Homo sapiens: one gene and its partner. The protein of the gene in region 2 purifies or fractionates together with the protein of the main gene of each other region. This does not show direct contact. Each region holds a gene or a part of one and is shown on either strand. Other genes may lie near its edges.

What was found. Proteins that work in one complex are often made in the same cells at the same time.
Region 1: the proteins of GALNT16 (region 2) and TRDN purify together in Homo sapiens (co-immunoprecipitation; one large-scale study listed by IntAct). This does not show direct contact.

Annotation. Positions count from the first base shown.
Region 1 is NC_000006.12:123,504,451-123,507,950, reverse strand, and holds part of TRDN (triadin), read left to right. Parts: intron 1-3,500. UniProt on the Homo sapiens protein: Contributes to the regulation of lumenal Ca2+ release via the sarcoplasmic reticulum calcium release channels RYR1 and RYR2, a key step in triggering skeletal and heart muscle contraction.
Region 2 is NC_000014.9:69,258,864-69,262,957, forward strand, and holds the start of GALNT16 (polypeptide N-acetylgalactosaminyltransferase 16), read left to right. Parts: upstream 1-1,294; 5' UTR 1,295-1,427; coding exon 1,428-1,604; exon of another isoform or gene 1,605-1,664; intron 1,665-4,094. UniProt on the Homo sapiens protein: Catalyzes the initial reaction in O-linked oligosaccharide biosynthesis, the transfer of an N-acetyl-D-galactosamine residue to a serine or threonine residue on the protein receptor.

The DNA.
Region 1 (3,500 bases), on a different chromosome or scaffold from region 2:
CAGTTCTTTATGGAATGAGAGAGAAAATTTGTTATTTTCTAACTCCCAACATGTGTAGTATGTTTCTTGAGGGATACTATTCTATTTAATACTTTGGCATCAGACATTCTGAATCTGATGCAGTAGCTAATGGATCACGCTAATTCCAAGATTGAATCAAATATGCTGATGTCATTTTTTTTGATTAGGCCATTTTGTTTTCCATTTGACAAAAGTCATGAATAAAATGCCTTCCTAAATAAAACTGGGTGATTTGAATACCCATGGCAATACTTTTTGTTTTTTTCATTCCTTAATAAATTTCGTCACTTAAATTATTTTAGGGAAAAATCAGGAAAAATATTTTGGCACAAAATTGAAGAATGTGTACTCAAAAGTAAATAGAAGTTGGGTGTTGCTTTAGTTTCATGATATTTTCTTTATTATAGCCACATCATTGTTTAGTTGTCACTCATTTTTTTCTACTATGAGGCAAAGTTATCTATTTCCAGAGTGAATGTGATTGAAGAGTGTCTAAAATAGTAGAAAATATTTTATTATTTTTATACTTAAAGTCAATGATTATAATGAGTTGGCTATATATGTGGTTCTACCTCTTAGAAAATAATCATTGCCCACTTATAAATTATAATGGCATTAAAAAGAAATCTGAATTTCACACATCTATAGTTCCATACTATAAAGTTAAGGTTAAATCAACTGTAACTTACAAGGAGTAGATAGCTGTCATTTAGAGTAAGCAAATATAACAATTTCATACAAATTAGTATAAACAAAAAAAAAAGTTGGCAAGTTTAACAGGTTTAGACAAGTTTATTTCTAAACACATATTTACATAATGCAGTCTCTATATCACTATATTATACATATGATCTGAGTATAGTGGAATATTTACTCTCTCCATCAAAATTGCTAATCCAGTATACATTTATCCTCTGTTTTCTCTGAAAGAAGCATTGTGCTAGACACTATGGTGATACAAAAATAATAATAGAATTCCTGCCCCTAAGCACTGTCTGTCTGGTAGGGAAGACAGATAGATCAAACTATCTATATTTCAAGATATATAATAAAGAATAAAATGTATAATTTAATAAAAATTCAGAAAAATGGAAGCTCATGGGAAGACATTATTAATTCAAATGGGAGAGCCATTTTTTTGCATGTGAATTGACCATGAAGAAATTTAATCCCAGCACTTTGGGAGGCCGAGGCGGGTGGATCGCCTGAGGTCAGGAGTTCAAGACCAGCCTGGCCAACATGGTGAAACCCCATCTCTACTAAAAATACAAAAATTAGCTGATGTTGGTGGTGCACACCTGAAATCCCAGCTACTCGGGAGGCTGATGCAGGAGAATTGCTTGAACCCGGGAGGCAGAGGTTGCAGTGAGCCAAGATTGCACCATTGCACTCCAGCCTGGCAACAGAGCCAAGAGTCTATCTAAACAAAAAAACAAAAAGACAAAAATAAATAAAAAAGAAATAAAGAAATTTAAATATGTGGAAAAATATAGAAAATATAGAGAATGCAGTCTGACAACAGTTGACACATGGAAAAATACATAAAATATTCAAAAGAAAGAAAGCAGTCCAGTAGAGGAATAAATTTTTGGAAAAGTGCTGTAACATGGGAGATAGGAGGAAGCCAGATATTGCACGGTTTTAATTTTGCTGTGCTAAAATTTATTCAGGTAGTTTTATTATTATGCTGATTTTTAGAGCTCCAGCAACTAGCTGTGAGCCCAGGTCAACATAGACTCTCTAGAAGTGTTTTTTAGGTGAATGAGTTGCATGAGATTGAGGTGCTGTTGACCACTCCAGTGAAACTTTCTTTCCAGACAGACACTAATAAACATTCCAGTGTGGAATTCTGGAATGATTTCAATTTAAAGTCATCCGCAGAAAGCTGCTGGTTTCAGTCACAGAAACATATGAGTTTACTGCAGGAAAGAGCAGAAACCAGCAAAGGAGGTTTAGAAATGATTTATAGGAAGAAGAAAATCCCCTGAGTGTAGTTACAGAAGCCACAAAGATGTTGAAAGTTTATGGACATGTGAAACCCCATCTCTACTAACAATACAAAATTAACTGGGCTTGGTGATAGGCGCGTGTAATCCCAGCTACTTGGGAGGCTGAGGCAGGAGAATTCCTTGAAACTGAGAGGCAGAGGTTGCAGTGAGCCGAGATCGTGCCACTGCACTACAGCCTGGATGACAAAGCAAGACTTCATCTCAAAAAAAAAAAAAAGTTTATAGAGTAATTGAGTAATATTTGTATGAGAATTTTATGATTAAACAATATTGAATAATGTGTGTATCATAATTCCCCTTCTTAAAAATTCTCAATACACTTCAGCTTTGAGAAAGTCCAAGCTAAATGACCAGGTTAGCTTATTGTTGCCAAATGAATTTGGCCATGAGAATATTCTCCAATACCTAATACAGTATCAACATCTTCCTGTAAATATCTGAAGTATCTGAGAAACAGTGTTTTGGGAAGTGCTGGCGTAGTCAATTAAGTGCGATACCACAGATGATTTTTGGTTTGCAAGCTAACCAGCATCTGGCATTATCATTTTCATTCTCTCAATGGGACCTTCTGATATTATCTTGGCTTAGCCTGAAATCATCATTTAGGGTACCAAAGTCAAGAAACTTGATTACATTTTTTCATTAAATTCTTTTTTTTTTTTTTTTTTTTTTTTTTGAGACAGAGTTTTGCTCTTGTTGCCCAAGTTGTGGTGCAATGGCGCAATCTCGGCTCACTGCAACCTCCGCTTCCCTGGTTCAAATGATTCTCCTGCCTCAGCCTCCTGAGTAGCTGGGATTACAGGCATGCACCACCACGCCCAGCTAATTTTTGCATTTTTAGTAGAGATGGGGTTTCACCCTGTTAGCCAGGATGGTCTTGATCTGCTGACCTCATGACCCGCCCGCCTTGGTCTCCCAAAGTGCTGGGATTACAGGCATGAGCCGCCATGCCCGGCCTTCATCAAATTCTTTAACATGAGTGACAATAAAGGCTACACAGTGCATTAGCAAATGACATAGAGGATTCCAACATTGCAGTAGAGTTGCTGTGGTGTATAGTGGTTATGTGTAGTCACATACAAAAAGGAATGTCCAATATTCAGCATCTATTATGAACAATTTTCCACAAATTATGTGCTACATTATTACTGCTTTTTAAAAGATGCTTGAATGATCCACAGACTAGTTATTTGCATCACAGTTCCCTCTTCCAAAATACGGATAATATCAAATTAAGAATATATGTGTGTAATATATATATGTTCTAATTTATATATCTATTCATATATATTTTTATTTATAGCCCTTTGAATTTCCCATGATATGTTTAAGGGCTTTAAAAACTAGTAGAATTATCGCTGACTTAAGATAAACAGGAGCCAATATCTGAATTTCTTCACTTTCAGTTTTTCTAAGGCCAAATCATTAGACTATAGGTCTTTCAGTTATCTTCTAATGGATTTCATTGTT
Region 2 (4,094 bases):
CAACTCCTATCAAATCCTAGGCCCCCTGCAACGCCTGGCAGCTCTCTCTCTTGAACACATCAAGCTCTTCCATCCTCTGGATTTTTGCAAGGCCTATTTCTGCAGTCTCTCCCCTGTCCTCACCTCCCCCTTCCTTACCTCTTAAGTGATTCATCCACCTTTCTGAGAGCTTTCCCAAAGGCCACCTTACAATAAATTATTTCTTCCTCTGTTGGATCCCTACTTTGTTGTTACACATCTATTCATTGAGCGCTCTGTGCCCGACACTGTGCTGGTTTCCTAAAACTCATCCAAGCCTCTTGCTTTCTGCCTGGAGTGAAGAGTAGTTCACGTTCTGATTCTCAGTGCCTCTAGGGCTGGAGCGGAATCTTAATGTCTGTGTCCTCGTCTCTCACCACCGCGTTTTGCACTTTGTCGAAAGGTGTCAGATGGTGAGATGGCTTCTAGACTGGGCTCTGCCCACTAATTAGCTGTGTGGCCTTGGGAGAATCATCCGGCCTCTCTTGCTGCCCTTCTTTCCGATGAAATAATGCTGACGATGATATTTCAGGGTTGTCCAGGGGTCAATGAGGCGGGATAGAGGGAAGCATCGTGAAATCTGGGAGCCCCAGGCCAGCGAAAAATGTGGAAGGGCCGTACCCGCACTCTCCTAGCACTGGGTGTGAGGCAGCGTCGTTTCCCCTTCGCGCTCTTCGAATGTCAAGTGCACCAGCTTCCAATCCCTCCTCTGGGCGGGCCCGGTCTGGCTAATCTCAGCTGCAGATTCCAGTACAAACTCAGGACTCTCCCCCGCCCAGCCGCCCCTACACAAGGACTCGCCGAACACACCTTGAATCCCGCGCCAGAGCGCAGCCCGGAACTGCAGCTCGCGGCGCGGGCCCAGGTCGGGGGTCGCGCGTCTCCAGTCGGTGACTCAAGGCCGCTCGGTCCGGGGGTGGGTGTGGGTCGGCAGGACCGACCAGGGCCGCGCGGGGGCAGCTGCCGGGCGTTCGGTCACCTAGCGGTGGGAGCCGAGGCTGGCTTTGGCCAGTCGCCATTCCGCCGCGGGCGTCTGTCTCGCCGGGTTCCCGGGCGCGGGAGGAAGGCCCGCGCCGCTTCCCACTCGGCGCGCTTCTCTCCCAGTGCGCAGTGGCCTGGTGGGTCAGCCGGCGGCGGCTGGAGCGCGGGGCCGGCCCTGCGCACGAATGAATGGGCGCCCGGGGGACGCGCGCGCTCGGGGCTGAAGGGCATTAGGACCGTGAGGATCGCTCCGCGATCCTGTCTCTCCCTATCACCCCCCCGCCCCCCCACCTCTCTCCTTTTTCTGCTCTGCAGGACTGAGCAGCTAGGCGCGAGCGAAAACAAACAGCTGGGGCTGCGAGCGCCCCCGCCCCGGCCCCGAGAGCACGCCGGCCCAGTCCCCCACCTGGGGCGCCCGTCTGCCCACCATGAGGAAGATCCGCGCCAATGCCATCGCCATCCTGACCGTAGCCTGGATCCTGGGCACTTTCTACTACTTATGGCAGGACAACCGAGCCCACGCAGCATCCTCCGGCGGCCGGGGCGCGCAGAGGGCAGGCAGGAGGTCGGAGCAGCTCCGCGAGGACCGCACCATCCCGCTCATTGTGAGTACGCCCCGAGCGTCGGCCGGCCGGCTAGGGAGCCGCGGCGCGCGTCCAGACCCTGCGCGGCGGCCGAGGGCGCGGGGCCCGGCCAGGGCTGAGTGCCCGCTGCGCCGGGCCGGCTTTGTATATGTTGGAGCATTCCTGCCCGTTGTTATGGCAACCTCTGCCGGGCGGCGGGGCTGGGGCGCACCGACTAAGGGAGGGTGACAGAGGGTGGGGGCTGGGAGAAAGTGCTGCAAGTTTGGTGGGCCCGGCGTGCGCGCGCGGCTGGGAACGTGGCGGCTCTCCCGGCTCTGCGCTGCCGGGGCCGGGAGTCTGGGGGCTGCGGGAGCCTCGTGTGCCCCGGAAGGCTGCCGGGCCCAGCGCGCGGCGAGCGGGCGGTGGGAACCACTCGCAGCCGAGCGCGTAGGTGGCAGTGCGCAGCCCCTCTCCAGCCTTCTGGGGGCAGAGGACATCGGGTGGGGGCGTGGGTAGGGGAAGGCTCTCTAGGCGCTGCGCCTGGCTTCGAACCCCCTTCTGAGCCGGGTCAACTTGAACCCGCTTCTTCGGCGCGGACACCCAGCTTCCCCGGAGTTCTCTGGGTTGAGGAGAGGTCTCGCACTGTACGCGTCTCTCACTCCCAACCTTAGGGTCCGCCACCACGGGTAGGTGGGCAGTGTCAGCGCCCGAACTTGGCGATACCCTTGCATGAAGTCAGCCTCGCGACATCTAAGCGGGCAGGGAAACAAAGGCAGTGTGGCACAGCGGGGGCGGCGGCGGGGCTGCGGGGGCCCTTGGCGCTCTGGGGACCCGGGCGGGGGCGTGCGGAGCCGCAGCCGCCCTGCAGGGGGCGATCCTGTCGCCGTCTCCGTCCGAGCCCCAGGTGACAGAGCTGTGCGTGGCCAGGCAGGGGCACCTGTTGAGGCGGGAGGCTTTGGCACCCGCCGAGAGTGCGCTCGAGCGGGCGCATTCTTCCAGACGGGGGCGGTTGGTGGACGAGAGCCTCGGACGACCCTCGGGAACTACCAGGGCGGGGCAGCCTGGCCGGATGAGGACCAGGAAGAGGAGAGCCGAGTGGGGCGGGGGTAAAGGAGTGAGGAAGCGTGGCGATTCCGACAAGGAAAGATCTGGGCCTGGGGGTGGAGGGGTGAGGAGATCCGCGGGGGAGGTGCAAGGTCCGGAGGGCTGAGGCTTGTGTGGAGCCGAATCCGAGAAACGCATCCAGACGCGGATCTGAACCCCAGGAATATCGGGAAGTTCATTGGAGAGTGTCCCCTCATATTCCCATCCTGCCCCAGATTCCGAGTCCCCTGCAAAGGAAACATTATTTCAGGGCTTTGCCTGAGGAGACCTGGGGCGGGGGGGTGAGGTTGTGGGTTTTGTCCTAGATACCAGTCTGGGTGAACTCTCTGGGGGCAAGCCTGATTAGGTGCACTGTTCCCTTCTGGGCTGTTCTCCCAGGACACTGTTTCCAAAGCACTTGTCGCCCTTTGGACAGAAAACTGATAAGGAAAAGCCTCCTGTGCTGAGGCCCCAGAGTGTTGTGATCTGAGCAGAGGGACAGGTTGGAGCTGGAACTGTCCAAACCAGCAGTGGCCTCCAGACCCCAGGGAGCTTCCTCTCCAGGAGCCCAGGCTGCCACATTCATACTCAGTGGCAGGAAGAGCCCTAGTCTCAGGCAAGGCAGGCTGGCCAGATGCTCTGTCCCTCTTTCTGGTGAGGCGATGAGAAGAGGGTCTGAGTTGGAAGGGGCGGAGAAAGAGGCTGGGCAGGGAGGAGAGGAGGGAAGAGAGCACAGGAGACTGCTGCTCAGAGCCTCTGCTTTGGAACCCGGAACCTGAACCCTGACCTGGCCCATGCACCTCTCTCCTGCTCCTTCCAGAGTCCTGTAAGATGCACTGGGAGGGCCGCTCACATTTCTCAAGAGTCCCAGAATGGTGTAGGGGACCTGCTGGAAGGATTCAGCACTCATTTTGAGGGGTGGGAATTGGAGGTCATGAGAATCACCAGTAAACATCCTCTTGTCCCTGCTTATTCCCACAGGGTTTGACTTGCTGCAGGTAAGAAAAGGTCTCAGAGCGGGAAGCTAAGTTTAAAGTATGAAGGAGTATCAGGGAGATACCTGGGAGCTGGGAAGTGAAGGTGCAGGAAGAAAGGGAGAATGGAAGTCCCTGGGAGTGGCAGAGCCTTCTGTGGCCACTTAGGGGCACAGCCAGCTCCCTCTTTGTTCTTAAGCTTTAGATGCCTGTTCCACCAGCACTGACCCCCCCGTCAGGCACCACTTTTGACAACTGCCTTGCATTGTTTCATTGTATTCCTCTCTTCCAGTTATTTCTTCCATGTGATTTGCAGCTGAATGTAAGTGATGCATGCGGGAACTGTGCTGGAAGCTCCTTGCATCCCCACATTGATGCACACAGCAAGATTTCTTTTTTTCTTTTTTTTTTTTTTGAGATGGAGTCTCACTCTGTCACCCAGGCTGGAGTGAGGTGGCATGATCTCGGCTCACTG